4 linked regions of the Homo sapiens genome follow. The protein of the gene in region 1 purifies or fractionates together with the protein of each later gene. This does not show direct contact. Each region holds a gene or a part of one and is shown in the gene's direction. Other genes may lie near its edges. The genes, in order: TIAL1, SULF2, MOV10 and MIX23.

Region 1 (3,569 bases):
ACCTCATGATCCGCCTGCCATAGCCTCCCAAAGTGCTGGGATTACAGGCGTGAGCCACCATGCCTGGTCACTTGTTCATTTTTCTTACAGATAGGTCTACTCTGTACAAAAAGAAATCATTTCAGAGATACAGGCTCACAAACCCCTATGAGTTAAGAAGGGGCAAGCAGCCTATCGCTGGCTCATAACCCAATAACCTTTTAGTCCTGCTGGAAAAAGTATGTCACTACATTGGCCTGCTGATGGATCAGCTCCTTAATTACGTGGAAAAGGTGGCATAGTGGACGTAAAACAGTTTGTCACTTGTTTAGTCCTCTAGTTAGGTAATATTGGATGTGTGTTTCAATTTTAGAGCAGGTACACTAAGATTATTAGTACTCATTGCAATAAAATTCTTAACTGGAAAATCGCTACTAATTCTTAATTGGATCTTTTAAGTTTTTTACTTAACCTAAGCTTTCTCAGTCTATTTTTCCCTTTGAGTATTCCATCTTAAAGCATGTTGTGTATTTAATGTGGCAGCTATGTTGCAAGTCTTATTTTGGTCTTAATACTCAGTTTCCAGATGTAATATATTACAAGTAGAAAAAGAAATCTACTTTCCAGAATGAACTTTGTTAAATTTTACAGATATTGTTTGGTTTATGAGGTTGTTCATAACAGATGCAAATTTGAGGAATTATGTGTAGAATACCAGAAAGACTTTAGTGTTTGGCAATTTATTTAGATAAATTAAGATAAATCCATAGTACAAGACATAAACCAAGGTGGTCCTCTCTGTGTGATGAAGTAGCATTTTTTTCTTTTCTTTTTTAAACTTTCCTGTATTTAAAATCTTTTACACAAAACACATTCAATTGTAATTAGGAAAAAAAACCCAAATTTTTAAGTGTCCATAGTCAAAAGTATGCCTGGATTTGTCTTAGTTTTTCTCTGAATTTCTTAAGAAATCTTTGTATTAGCTTTTTTATCTACATTAAGATATATTTTGTTGGCTGGGCATGGTGGCTCACTCCTGTAATCCCAGCACTTTGGGAGACTCAGGCAGGTGGATCACTTGAGGTTAGGAGTTTGAGACCAGCCAGGCCAACATGGTGAAACCCCGTCTCTACTAAAAATACAAAAATTAGCCGGGCGTGGTGGTGCACGCCTGTAGTCCCAGCTACCTGGGAGGCTGAGGCAGGAGAATCGCTTGAACCTGGGAGGCGGAGGTTGCAGTGAGCTGAGATCATGCCACTGCACTCCAGCCTGGGTGACAGAGTGAGACTCCATCTCAAAAAAATACATATATATTTTGTTGATTCTGATGCATTTTAGACTAGGAAATTTTATATTTTACCCTGCTCTCCTAAAATGAAACAGTGAAGACATCATTGCAAACAACCTTACTCAGCCAAAAACAAAACAACAAAAACCCTCCACCCTCTGTATGTTTTACTATAACTTTAATTCTGTTCTTTGTTCATGTAATTGCTTTGGTTGGGAATCTAAGATAAACTCACTTTATGTTTAATATCCTATTACAATCAGATGTTTTAATGAATTAGTATTTGTTGTATGTGTGTGTGTGTTATAAATTATTTTTAATTAGAAATTGTAGTTATCTTGAGACCAGTTTAAAATTTTAACAATTAGAATAAGATGAGAAAATGATATCCAGGGTACAGAATAATAATGCCATTGGGGTATACAAGATCACATTGATTTGTTCTTTAAATGTCTTTCAGAGTGGTATTTTAGTGGCCTAAGAACAATTGTTGCTTTCCTAAATAAGGGTTAATCTTACTTTCATAGGATCAGGTTTAATTGGAGAAATTTTGTTGAAAACAGAGGAAGTTAAAATGAAATAAAAGGTGGCCGGGCGCAGTGGCTCACGCTTGTAATTCCAGCACTTTGGGAGGCCAAGGCGGACAGATCACCTGAGGTCAGGAGTTCAAGACCAGCCTGACCAATACGATGAAACCCTGTCTCTACTAAGAATACAAAAATTAGCCAGGCATGGTGGCATGCGCCTGTAATCCCAGCTACTTGGGAGGCTGAGACAGGAAAATCGTTTGAATCTGGGAGGCGGAAGTTGCAGTGAGCTGAGATCATGCCATTGCACTCCAGCCTGGGCAACAAGAGCAAAACTCCATCTAAAAAAAAAAGAAAGAAAGAAAGAAAGAAAGAAAAGGTGATGAATTAGATGATAACACATTAGAGCCAGAGCTAAAGGAAAAATTGCTGATAACGTATTTTTTTCTTGTGCAGATACGTAGGTAACCTTTCCAGAGATGTGACAGAAGTCCTTATACTTCAGTTGTTCAGTCAGATTGGACCCTGTAAAAGCTGTAAAATGATAACAGAGGTAAGATCTTCCCAGTTCCATGTGCTGACAATTAGCATGATGGGTTGATTAGCATGATTTTAAAATTTCATTGTAAGCCTCAAGTTATTCTGGTGGAGAGATTTGTGTTGTGTTGACTTATTACTTTGATTTGGCTGACAAACTAGGCTTAGAATGGAGTTTTATTTAAGAGGGCAAAGTTTCCGTGCTGTTAAGCTCAAACGGTCATTCTTCATGGTGTGGTTATCTTGAAGTGATTCTGCTTTCAGAACATTATTAGAGCTCATTTCAGAATGGTGAAAAATTGGAAAGTATTTCATACAATTCCAATAAGAATGTTAACGATTTAGACAGCATGTGTTCATGTGCGAGAACACGAAGTTATTATGTGTGTAGTGTGCAGCACCGTTCGTCTCGTGTGTCTGTAGCAAATACTTACCTTTTTATACTTTCCTGCTAAGACTGTAGCAGCACCCAATTAGTCATGTTTTAGGCTTTTCTTCCTTGTGTTTTTGTTCATTGATCAGCTTTCTTTTTTTTTTTTGGACTATTTCCTATGTACTAGATACTGCAGTAAGTGCTAGAGATACACTGGTGAATAAAGATAGTTCCTTGGCCCAGAGAATTTTACAGTTTAGTAGGGAGACAAAGGAGTTAGCAGGCACTTAGGAAGTAGGATAATAAATGCTCTAGAAGCAGACAACTTAAAGTGCTGTGGGAGCAAATGTGTATCCAGTGCAGCCTTAGGTCAGTGAGCGGCTTCTTGGAGGACTCACTGCCTAGGCGGAAACCTTGAAAGGATAGTAGTACATACTGGCTAGAAAGGAATTGAGGGAAGAAGGGATTCCAAATAAAGGGAACTTTGATCCAGGTTGGTAGGGAGAGCAGGAGTGCTTGAGACAGAGAGGGAAAAATAGAACCCGTAGCATGGTTGTAGTTAAAATGGAATTAGTCGTAAGAGATGGCAGGAGTTTATGGAAAGGGCTAGAAACTGTGCTAAAGAGTTTGTTTTATCCTGAAACGGAGAACTGTTAAAAACCTTTAAAGTGCATTGGCCTTTTGATTGTCTTTCCCAAGTAATGACAATCATCATTTTGTTCTGGTGTATTATATTTTTCCTTCCTGCCTTTAATTATTTATTTGTGCTTTCATCGATCAAAAATTTCCTTTGCACTAGGCACTATACAAGGTACTGGAGATATAATGGAGAGACAGCCAAATGAGTTTCCCAAGCAAATAGGGA
Region 2 (3,569 bases), on another chromosome or scaffold:
CAGGGTGCTCTGTGTCAGGCCTGGGCGGATGTGGAAGATGGGGGCCTCTCTCAATGCTGATCTGCAGGTGAGGGGGCCCTCCCTGAAACCTGCTTTCTCTGGGCCTCCTTGGAATGGGCCTTGGTGGAGATCTACAGACAGCCCTGGCCCAGCCGGATTGAAGGCACTGTCTAATTGGGAGGGCATTAAGATCGTTATAATTAATTGGCATCCCGATAAATGGCATGGTTGCCTAATTGGGGTGGTTGCTAGGGAACGAGGCCTCACTTGGAGCCTAAAGGGGAAGAAGCGCTGGGCTGGCCACAGTTGGGTGTCAGGGTACAGATCCAGCAGTGAATGGACCGGAAGGGAGAGCAGTCCATCCGTATCTGCTGGTGTTTACTGAGCAGCTGCTGTGTGCAAGTTGCAAATGGAGTATCAGTTAGGGGTACTTGCCTAGAAGAACTGTAAAGTAATCAGGTTCCTTTCTCTTGCAAGCAACGGAAAAAGAGAAGAAAAAAACTCAAGCCAGCTTAAGGAGAAAAGAAGTGGACTTACTGGTTTTCATAACCAAAAGTCTTAAGGTGACTAACTCTAGCTTCAGACACAGCTGGACCCACAGCTCAGATTTTGTAATGAGAATCCATTCCTATCCACCGCTCCTCTGCCTTCCATGAGGCTGATGTCTCTCCAGCTCTGGGGCGGGCAGTCCCTGGCAGCTGTGGGCACCGTGGCTAGGAGAGCCAGACTGCCTGGCTCCCTGCCCAGCAGTGGGATCTGGGGCATGCTACTTAACCTTTCTGTGCCTTGATGTTCACATCCAACAAATGATGATGATCATAGCACCTGTCTCCTGCTTGTGGTAAGCATGAAATGAGATGATCAATGTCAAGTGCTTAGCAGGGCGTCTGACCCAGGTGAGCCTTCAGTAGGCATTGACTGTTACCATAACTTAGGTGTCAGGACAGATGTCATGGAGCAGAGGGGTCTCATCCCCTCTGGTTTAAGCCCAAAAGGAAAGAACAAGCCTCTGATCTGGCAATGCACACCTGAGCCCCATGGTTCCCTCTGATTGGACTGTTTTTTGTCCAAACCAGTCACTGGCTAAGGAAATGAGTTGCCAACAATTGGCTTAAGCCAGGCTCACAGGCCTCTCCCTGGAGCTGGATGGAGGCTGACTGCTGAGACCCCAAAGCCTGGAATAAAACAGCACGGGGAGTCCCCAGTGAAAGGGAAGCCCGGTTGCTGGAGAGGCAGATGGCCAGTGCCTGCGATGATGGGCCACTAATGTGAGCAATGCTGGCCAGATGGACCCATCTTCATTTTGGCCAAGGTGGAGACTGGGGAAACACGCTGCCTGGGCAATGCCTCTCCCTTCCACCAGGGCCAGGAGGCATCAAAGGCCTGACTTTTCTGCCTTACTGTCTGAAGGATGGGGCCTGGCCTTGATCCTGTGCTTTCGGGGGGCCAGGGGCAGTGTTTGTCTAACCTCCCACCATGAGAATCATCTGGCTGTATTTGTTTAAAAAGGCAAAGACCAGATCCTGTTGAATCAAACTTCTAGGGAGGGTCCTGGATGCTGGGGGGCATGACCAATATGTCATGTGTATATTCTATATCAGCAGGAGGGTTTGGCGAAGAGAGCTCTGGAGCGTGGGCCTCTTTGTCTTCCTGCCTAATGCAGGGGCTGTCAGAAGGCGGGGAAAATGCTCTAGGCCTGGCGTGCTGGCTCATGCCTATAATCCCAGCACTTTGAGAGGCCGAGGTGGGAGGATCCCTTGAGGTCAGGAGTTTGAGACCAGCCTGGCCAACATGGCAAAACCCTCTCTCTACTAAAAATACAAAAATTAGCCAGGTGTGATGGTGCTTGCCTGTAATTCCAGCTACACAGGAGGCTGAGGCACCAGAATCGCTTGAACCCAGGAGTCGGAGGTTGCAGTGAGCTGAGATCGCACTACTGCACTCCAGCCTGGGCAACAAAGTGAGACTCAGTCTCAAAAAAAAATTTAAAAGAAAAATGACTGCATGATGTGATGGGGTGGGAGGCAACTTTAGGCAGGCTGTCAGGGAGGCCTCTGTGAGGATGTGACCTTTGAACTGTGACCTAGATTTTAGGAAGGAGTCCGCCTTGGAAAGATCTGGGGGAAGAGCATGCCAGGTAGAAGGAACAGCTAGTGCAAAGGCCCAGAGGCGGTGGGAGGGGCCTGTCCAAGACACCTGCCCCAAACACAAATAGAAGTCAAGTGGGGTAGGCCAGGCGTGGTGGCTCACGCCTGAAATCTCAGCACTTTGGGAGGCTGAGGCAGTTAGATCACTGGAGGTCAGGAGTTCAAGACCAGCCTGACCAACACGGTGAAACCTCATCTCTGCTAAAAATACAAACATTAGCCAGGTGTGGTGGCACGTGCCTGTAGTCCCAGCTATTTGGGAGGCTGAGACAGGAGAATCACTTGAACCCGGGAGGCAGGGGTTGCTGTGAGCCGGGATCACACTTCTGCATTCCAGCCTGGGCAACAGAGTCAGACTCTGTCTCAAAAAAAAAAAAAAAAAAAGTCAACTAGGGTAGAGGGTCAGGAGTAAGTGGGGGAGGGCACGTCAGAGATGAGAAATACAGGCCATGCTAAGAAATTTTAGACTTTATTTTAAATAAAATGGATAACTGTCTGGACGCGGTGGCTTATGCCTGTAATCGCAACACTTTGGGAGGCCAAGGCGGGTGGATCACCTGAGGTCAGGAGTTCAAGACTAGCCTGGCCAACATGGTGAAACCCCATCTCTACTAAAAATACAAAAATTAGCCAGGCACGGTGGCGCACACCTGTAATCCCAGTTACTCGGGAGGCTGCAGCAGGAGAATCGTTTGAACCCAGGAGGTGGAGGTTGCAGTGAGCTGAGATTGTGCCATTGCACTCTAGCCTGAGTGACAGAGCAAGACTCCATCTCAAAAATAAATTAAAAAATAAAATGGAGAACCATTGGAGGGTTTTAAGTCAGAGAATGATATGATTTGTGTTTCAAGAAGATCCTGCTGGCTCCTGTGAGAGGCGTGCTGTGCAGATGGAAGTGGTATCACCGGGACTGTTAGGCAACAGAGAGGGCCCGAGAGTGGCTTGGACCGTGGTGGTATCAATGGAGATGGAGTGAAATGGGGATTGGAGATGTATTTTGGAGGTAGGGCCCACAGGACTTCCTAGTGGATTGGATTACAGAGTGAGGGAAAGGGCTTTGATTCTCAACCGAGGGTGATTTTGACACCCAGAAAACATTTTAACACTATCCGGAGACAGTATAGGTTGTCCCAACTGGGGAAGGGTTGCTACTGGCATCTAGAGGGTAGAGGCCAGGGATGCTGCTTAACCTGCAATGTACGGGATGACCCCACAGTGAAAAATGATTCAGCCCAAATATTCATGATGTATCCTGCCAAGGAGTCAAAGGTGACTAGGCAGCCTGGTGCGTGGTGATTGCTAAATAGGGAAGATAGGAGAGAAGGTTTTGGGGAGGAGGAGTGATCTGGAATTCCGACGTGGAAATGTTGGGTTTGAGATGAACCCCACCTGGATGTCTGAAAGCTCAGTGGGTGGTGAACG
Region 3 (3,569 bases), on another chromosome or scaffold:
TATGAAAAATAGCTGGGCACTTGAGGCTGCAGTGCGATTGTGCCACTGCACTCCATCCTGGGTGACAGAGTGAGACTCTGTCTCAAAAAAAAGGGTGGGGATTGGGGAAGTGGGAAGTTAGGGTAAATGTGGCTGTGGAGCACTGTTGTACGGGTAGGGCACTGCATGAATCTTGGAGTCACCATTCACATTTCAGTCATCATAGACTTGCCCTGCCCCAGCCTGGGTACGGCTGAGTCTCAGGAACCTGCCTCCCACACTGCGCTTATCTGCATCTCAGGTGGTGAAGCACTTGCCCAAAGCCCACATCTTGGCCTGCGCTCCATCCAACTCAGGGGCTGACCTACTCTGTCAAAGGCTCCGGGTCCACCTTCCTAGCTCCATCTACCGCCTCCTGGCCCCCAGCAGGGACATCCGCATGGTACCTGAGGACATCAAGGTACTAGGGAAGTGCAGAGGGCCAAAGAATGGCAAATGCCGGGGAGGCTCTCAGGGCAGACACTGAGGCGAGGAAGCTAGGAGACCTGGATTCTGATACTTGCTATGTGACCTTGGGTTGGACAGGACCCCTCCCTGGGCCTCAGTTTGTCTGTAAGTGAGGGGGGTGGATAAAACATTTGGGGGGCTGGGTGCAGTGGCTTACACTTGTAATCCCAACACTTTGAGGGGCGAGGCAGATGGATTACCTGAGGTCTGGAGTTTGAGACCAGCCTGGCCAACATGGCAAAATCCCGTCTCTACTAAAAATACAAAAAAATCAGCTGAGTATGGTGGCGCGTGCCTGTAGCCCCAGCTACTCGGGAGGCTGAGGCACGAGAATTGCTTGAACCCAGGCGGCGGAGGTTGCAGTGGGCCAAGATCACACCATGGCACTCCAGCCTGGGGGACAGCGAGACTCCGTCTCAATTAAAAAAAATAAAAATAATTGTTTGAGGGGGGGTACCCACAGCCAGAATCACGGTGGGAATGAGTGGAGCCAAGCTGATTCCTCTGGTCCCTTCACAATCCACAGCCCTGCTGCAACTGGGACGCAAAGAAGGGGGAGTATGTATTTCCCGCCAAGAAGAAGCTGCAGGAATACCGGGTCTTAATTACCACCCTCATCACTGCCGGCAGGTGGGGAGTGTGTGTGGGTGTGTCTCTGAATCGTAAGTGTAATTAAAGGGGTACCGGGCTGGGGAAATGGGGAAGAATGGTTTCCGGAGTGGGGTGGTGGGTGCTGAGAAGCCAGCCTGGGAAAGCATTCAGGTTTGGTAGTTGGGTGCCTGGATATGACCCCTGCCTGGCCTGACACCTCCCAGGTTGGTCTCGGCCCAGTTTCCCATTGATCACTTCACACACATCTTCATCGATGAGGCTGGCCACTGCATGGAGCCTGAGAGTCTGGTAGCTATAGCAGGTGAGGGACTCAGGTGGGGCTGCAGGTATACACCCTGTGTGGGTCAGAGAGGTTGCACCACTTACCTTTCTTCCCACACCTCTTCTGCTTCCCAGGGCTGATGGAAGTAAAGGAAACAGGTGATCCAGGAGGGCAGCTGGTGCTGGCAGGAGACCCTCGGCAGCTGGGGCCTGTGCTGCGTTCCCCACTGACCCAGAAGCATGGACTGGGATACTCACTGCTGGAGCGGCTGCTCACCTACAACTCCCTGTACAAGAAGGGCCCTGATGGCTATGACCCCCAGTTCATAACCAAGCTGCTCCGCAACTACAGGTATTCCCATGCCCTTGCCTCCCCTGCCATATCCTATGCTTTCACATCCTGCATGCAGACCCCACTGGAGAGTCTGGCTTGCTGTCAGTCCTGTTGCTCAGAGGTTGTGTGATGCAGAAAGACTAAACTGGAAGGCAGGAGGTTTTTCTAGCCCCAGCACTGCTGCTTGTTGTCTGCGTGACTTAGCCAGTGGTTTCACACTACACCAGTCAGCTTATCTGCATCTTAGGGGGTGGTCAGTGGTTCCTAGAGGCTAGGGTGTGTCTGGTACCAGTCCCAGATGAAGTTTTCAGGCAATCCAAGGAGAGATAAGAAAAATAGGGAGGAGGTCGGGCACAGTGGCTCATGGCTGTAATCCCAGCACTTTGGGAGGCCAAGGTAGGTCAGGCTCCCACCCCCGATCACTTGAGGTCAGGAGTTTGAGACCAGCCTGTCCAACATGGTGAAACCCCATCTCTACTAAAAATACAAAAATTAGCCAGGCATAGTGACAGGCACCTGTAATTCCAGTTACTTGGGAGGCTGAGGCAGGATAATCGCTTGTACCCGGGAGGCAGAGGTTGCAGTGAGCTGAGATCGCGCTACTGCAGTCTAGCCTGGGTGACAGAGCGAGACTCCATCTCAAAAAAAGAAAGAAAAATAGGGAAGATACAGTTTTTTCATAAACCTATTGTTATTCAAATTAAAGAGCTGTATACTTTTAGTGAATGAGTTCAGCCATCTAAAATGCTTAGATAAGTTTTATGCTGTCACTAAGAGCTCAATAAATGTTAGTTATTGTGTCATCACTGCTTATATTTTTTGATTTAACACATGGTCTCATCAAATAACGTGATAGTCAAGGAGAATTTGGTTTCGTACTGTCCTTGGTAAATTTGAAACCTGAAAATGGGCCCCTAATTATTTAGTTTTAAATGTCATGGGTCTGTGGAGTCCCTGGACTAGATGCTCTCTGGAACTATATTTGGTTCTGCTTTCTGTGGTTTACAGTGCCTGGCAGCAGATATTATGGAGGAGTGTCCTGCTATCCAGGGAGCCAGCGGGGTAGCAGGCTATTGTGTGTGGGCCCAGAGTGGGTAGAGCGGAGCCCCTGTAGGGCAGAGGGAATCTGACCCTTGGTCTTGCTTTTCCTCCTCCGGCCTCCCAGGTCTCATCCCACCATCCTGGACATTCCTAACCAGCTCTATTATGAAGGGGAGCTGCAGGCCTGTGCTGATGTCGTGGATCGAGAACGCTTCTGCCGCTGGGCGGGCCTACCTCGACAGGTGAGGCTGAGCAGGGCAGGCCCCACCCCTGTACCCTGACTTCCCTCCCACTGAAGGTGCAGCCCCTCCCTTTGTCACCTTGGCCTAGGATCTCTTACTCTCTGGAAGGGTTTGGGAAGGGAGGGAATAGAGGGAGGGTGGTCTGGCTGACGGTTTCCCCCGACCCCATGTCCAGGGCTTTCCCATCATCTTTCACGGCGTAATGGGCAAAGATGAGCGTGAAGGCAACAGCCCATCCTTCTTCAACCCTGAAGAGGCTGCCACAGTGACTTCCTACCTGAAGCTGCTCCTGGCCCCCTCCTCCAAGAAGGGCAAAGCTCGCCTGAGCCCTCGAAGTGTGGGCGTCATCTCCCCGTACCGGAAACAGGTCAGGTCCTCAGTTACCAGCAAGGGTGGGGCCCCTCCCCCAGATGGTACCTCCTTAATATCCAGACCACTAGGCAGAGGCTCCAGGAGCTTAGGCCTCTGCTGGCTCCGTATCTCAGAAGAGCACCAAGGTCAGCTGCCGCCTCCCTTTGTTCCCCAGCTCCCTGGCCTCCTGCCAGGCTCCCTCTTGCATTAGGTTAATGGCACGAGAGAAAGGCACCTGTCCC
Region 4 (3,569 bases), on another chromosome or scaffold:
ATGTAAAAGGGACTTTGATGTCAAGTACCAATGACATTACTTCTGGGTACCATCAGGCAAAGGGAGAGGAGAGGAAAGGTTAAGGGAGTTCCATATCATTCTTTGGAGTACAGTGTATTTTAGTTATATAATGGCCCCTTTCCTACTCCTCACCCCTATGTACCCTAAAAAATATGTAGAATTATAAAATAACTTTACCTGAGAATGAATCTTAGGAATAGACTATAGTATAATTGTAGGGGCAACAGAAAGTTTTCTCTACCCCTTCCCACTACTAAATATAGGCACTCCTTCAATACCTAAATTGCCTTCCAAGAGGATGAGATTTTTACCCCACCAATTACAGAGAAGACATAAAATGCATTCCAAGAAAAACGCCTGCATAATTTCAGAGTCAGCCTACAATGAGAGGTTCATGATATATCAGATCTCTTCTTGTTTTGAGGAGGATGAAAGATAGAAGAAGCTGGGAGTACTACAGAATTTATAAAGTTATCTTTGGCTGTGATTTAATGTTTAGAAGCTCATGAGGGTTCTACACAAGATGCAGCCTTCAGAGAACCATTGAACTGTGTGTATTTCTGTGTTATTTCTGTGGACAGGTGTTGCAGTTTATTGTGTATAATGTCTGTTCTGTTCAGGGGTGTCTTCTATGTATTTTCTTGGTGAATTTCTGGACAGGAGTGTATGCCATTGGGGCTAAGCCTCCGGTAGGTAGTCAGTAATTCCTTATGGATGATCCACATAATTCAATGGCAGCATTTTTGTGCCTTCATTCACCTTCGTTTGCTCACAATGTGTGAGGGCAGCCCGAACTTTTGCCTAGAACCTCTTGGAGTTGCCTTAACAGCTTTGGCACTTTTTTCCCTGTGAAGAAATGTGAGCCTGGTGAGACGGTTTACAGTTCTTTTCCTTCTCCCTTTTCAATTTTGAAAGAAATCACTTCCTGTCTCATTACACCACAAAAACACTGAGGGGCTACTATGTTGGACAGAACATTCACTGTTCTCAACAGGTTCCTATAAATAAAATTCGAATCTCCTTCTTTTCATAGCTGAAATGATTGACTAAATGGCATGCCTCTACTACTTCATCACCCACACTTTATTTCGCTACAATGTTTCCTTCCCCAATCATTTTACCTCCCTTTTTTTCTTTCTCTTTAGCTTTTCTGGTATCTCTTCTGTGACATTTAAGAATGGCATACAGTTTTCAGCAATTCCTGAACAAGTACATTATCAGTTTAGGGGTTGTCATTATATTTTCTAGAATATAGCACTGTCCAGTAGGACTTTCTGTGATGGTGGGAATGTTTTGCATTTATGCTATCTCCATATGATAGCCACTAGCAACAGGTGGCTCTTGAATACTTGAAATGTGACTAGTGCAATTAAGGAACTAAATTTTAAATTGCATTTAATTTTAATTTAAATAATCTCACATGGCTAATGTCTGCCATGTTAAAGGCAAGCTCTAGATCATATATTGATAATTCTCTAGTACACACAGAAAAATTGATACAGAGTCATGCTCCACATAATGATGTTTCAGTCAGTGACTGACTACATATACAACGGTGGTCCCATGAGATTATAACACCATATTTTTACTGCACCTTTTCCATATGTAGATATATTTAGATACACAAGTATCACTGTGTTACAGTTGCCCACAGCATTCAGTACAGTAACCTGCTGTATAGGTTTGTAGCCTAAAAGCAATCATCTATACTATATAGCCTAAGTGTGTAAGTAGGCCATACCATCTAGGTTTGTGTAAGTACACTCTATGATGTTCACACAACAGAATCACCCAATGACACATTTCTCAGAATGTTTCCTTGTCATTAAGCACTACATGACTATTTGATAATCCATAGGTTCCACTGGTAATACAATAAAATTGATGGACTCATTACATAGTTAATGTGGATAGATTCCCATTGCTATGTAAGGAATTTAGTAGTATGTCCAAATTGTTTTATTGGAGATGAATCGGGCTAAAGTGTTCAAACTCAAAACTGGTTAAAGTTCAGAGTCAACACAAACCCCAGGAAATGTCAAACGATGTAATCTTTCACGTGGATTGCTGCAGTCGTCTAACTGATCTTTTGACACCTACTCTAGTTCCTCTGCAGTCCACTTTAATCTAAGCAGTCATTTTAGAACACAGATCTGATCATGTAACCTTAATCACAACAGAAAACACATGTTTGGTTCCCTGTGGGTCTCAGAAAAGACTAAAATCCTATCATATGACCTCTAATAATGGACCTCATGTTACACCATGTTTTATCTTTCTCTGTGTACTTAAGCCACATTACCTTTTCAGTCCATTAAACACTCTATTTATATGGCTCTCTTTAAGGTCACCCTTGATTTCCATCCTGCTAAGTTTAAAAGTTTAATTTCTGTTCATATAATCATTTATTCATTTAAAATTTTTTTGAGACATAGTCACCAAGGCTGGAGGGCAGTGGCACATCATAGGTAACCGTAACCTTGAACTCCTGGGCTCAAGTGATCCTTCTGCCCCAGCATCCCAAGTAGCTAGGACTGTAGGCACATGCCACCATGCTTGGCTAAATTTTTTACTTTTGTTGAGACAGAGTCTTACTGTGTTGCCCAGGCTGGTCTTGAACTCCTAGCCGTAAGCAGTCCTCCCGCCTGAATCTGCCAAAGAGCTGGGATTACAGATGTGAGCTACCACACCTGGCCCCATATAATTCTTGAGTTAGTAACATTCAACACAAATGACCAATCCCTCCGTTAAACCTTTCTTCTGACTTCCGTGACATCACAGAATTTTTCCTTTACTTTTAGATGTAAGAATTCCTTAATCATTGGCCTCCTTCGCTTTCTACAGTCTCCTCCAGTGATCTCTTCTAGTTTCATGGTTTTAAAGAACATCAGTTTATTAATATAACTCCACCCCGATCAGTGTCAGACTGGCATACTCTACTTTCTATTCCACTCTTCTACTCAGATATCTAATAGGCATCTCAAACGTTAACAAGTCCAAAACAGAGCTTTGTTTTTTGTTTTTTGTTTTTTCTAATTTAAAAAATTTTAGATTTGGGGGTACATATACAGGTTTCTTTTCGGAGATGGAGTCTCGCTTTGTCACCCAGGCTGGAGTACAGTGGCGTGATCTCAGCCCACTGCAACCTCTGCGTGCTGGGTTCAAGCAATTCTCCTGCCTTAGCCTCCTAAGTAGCTGAGACTACAGGTGTGCGCCACCATGCGCGGCTAATTTTTTGTATTTTTGGTAAAGACGGGGTTTTGCCATGGCCAAACTGGTCTCAAACTCCTGACCTCGTGATCCACCCACCTCAGCCTCCCAAAGTGCTGGGATTACAGGTGTGAGCCACTGCACCTGCTTGATAGCCTTCTAATTTACCCATCACACAAATTATGAACATAGTACCCAACAGGTAATTTTTCACCCCCCACCTTCCTCCTTACCCTTGCCCTTTGGAGTCCCCAATGTCTATTCTTTCCATCTTTATGTCTATATGTACCCATTGTTTAGCTACCATTTATAAGCAAGCACATTTGGTATTTGATTTT

The links.
Region 2: the proteins of TIAL1 (region 1) and SULF2 purify together in Homo sapiens (co-immunoprecipitation; one large-scale study listed by IntAct). This does not show direct contact.
Region 3: the proteins of TIAL1 (region 1) and MOV10 purify together in Homo sapiens (affinity purification with western blotting; one study listed by BioGRID and IntAct). This does not show direct contact.
Region 4: the proteins of TIAL1 (region 1) and MIX23 fractionate together in Homo sapiens (co-fractionation; one large-scale study listed by BioGRID). This does not show direct contact.

Annotation. Positions count from the first base shown.
Region 1 is NC_000010.11:119,586,930-119,590,498, reverse strand, and holds part of TIAL1 (nucleolysin TIAR), read left to right. Parts: intron 1-2,250; coding exon 2,251-2,347; intron 2,348-3,569. UniProt on the Homo sapiens protein: RNA-binding protein involved in alternative pre-RNA splicing and in cytoplasmic stress granules formation. Shows a preference for uridine-rich RNAs.
Region 2 is NC_000020.11:47,778,978-47,782,546, reverse strand, and holds part of SULF2 (extracellular sulfatase Sulf-2 isoform a precursor), read left to right. Parts: intron 1-2,892; exon of another isoform or gene 2,893-3,569. UniProt on the Homo sapiens protein: Exhibits arylsulfatase activity and highly specific endoglucosamine-6-sulfatase activity. It can remove sulfate from the C-6 position of glucosamine within specific subregions of intact heparin.
Region 3 is NC_000001.11:112,695,136-112,698,704, forward strand, and holds part of MOV10 (helicase MOV-10), read left to right. Parts: intron 1-280; coding exon 281-439; intron 440-1,012; coding exon 1,013-1,116; intron 1,117-1,301; coding exon 1,302-1,399; intron 1,400-1,494; coding exon 1,495-1,711; intron 1,712-2,858; coding exon 2,859-2,976; intron 2,977-3,151; coding exon 3,152-3,343; intron 3,344-3,502; coding exon of another isoform or gene 3,503-3,538; exon of another isoform or gene 3,539-3,569.
Region 4 is NC_000003.12:122,376,715-122,380,283, reverse strand, and holds part of MIX23 (protein MIX23), read left to right. Parts: intron 1-3,569.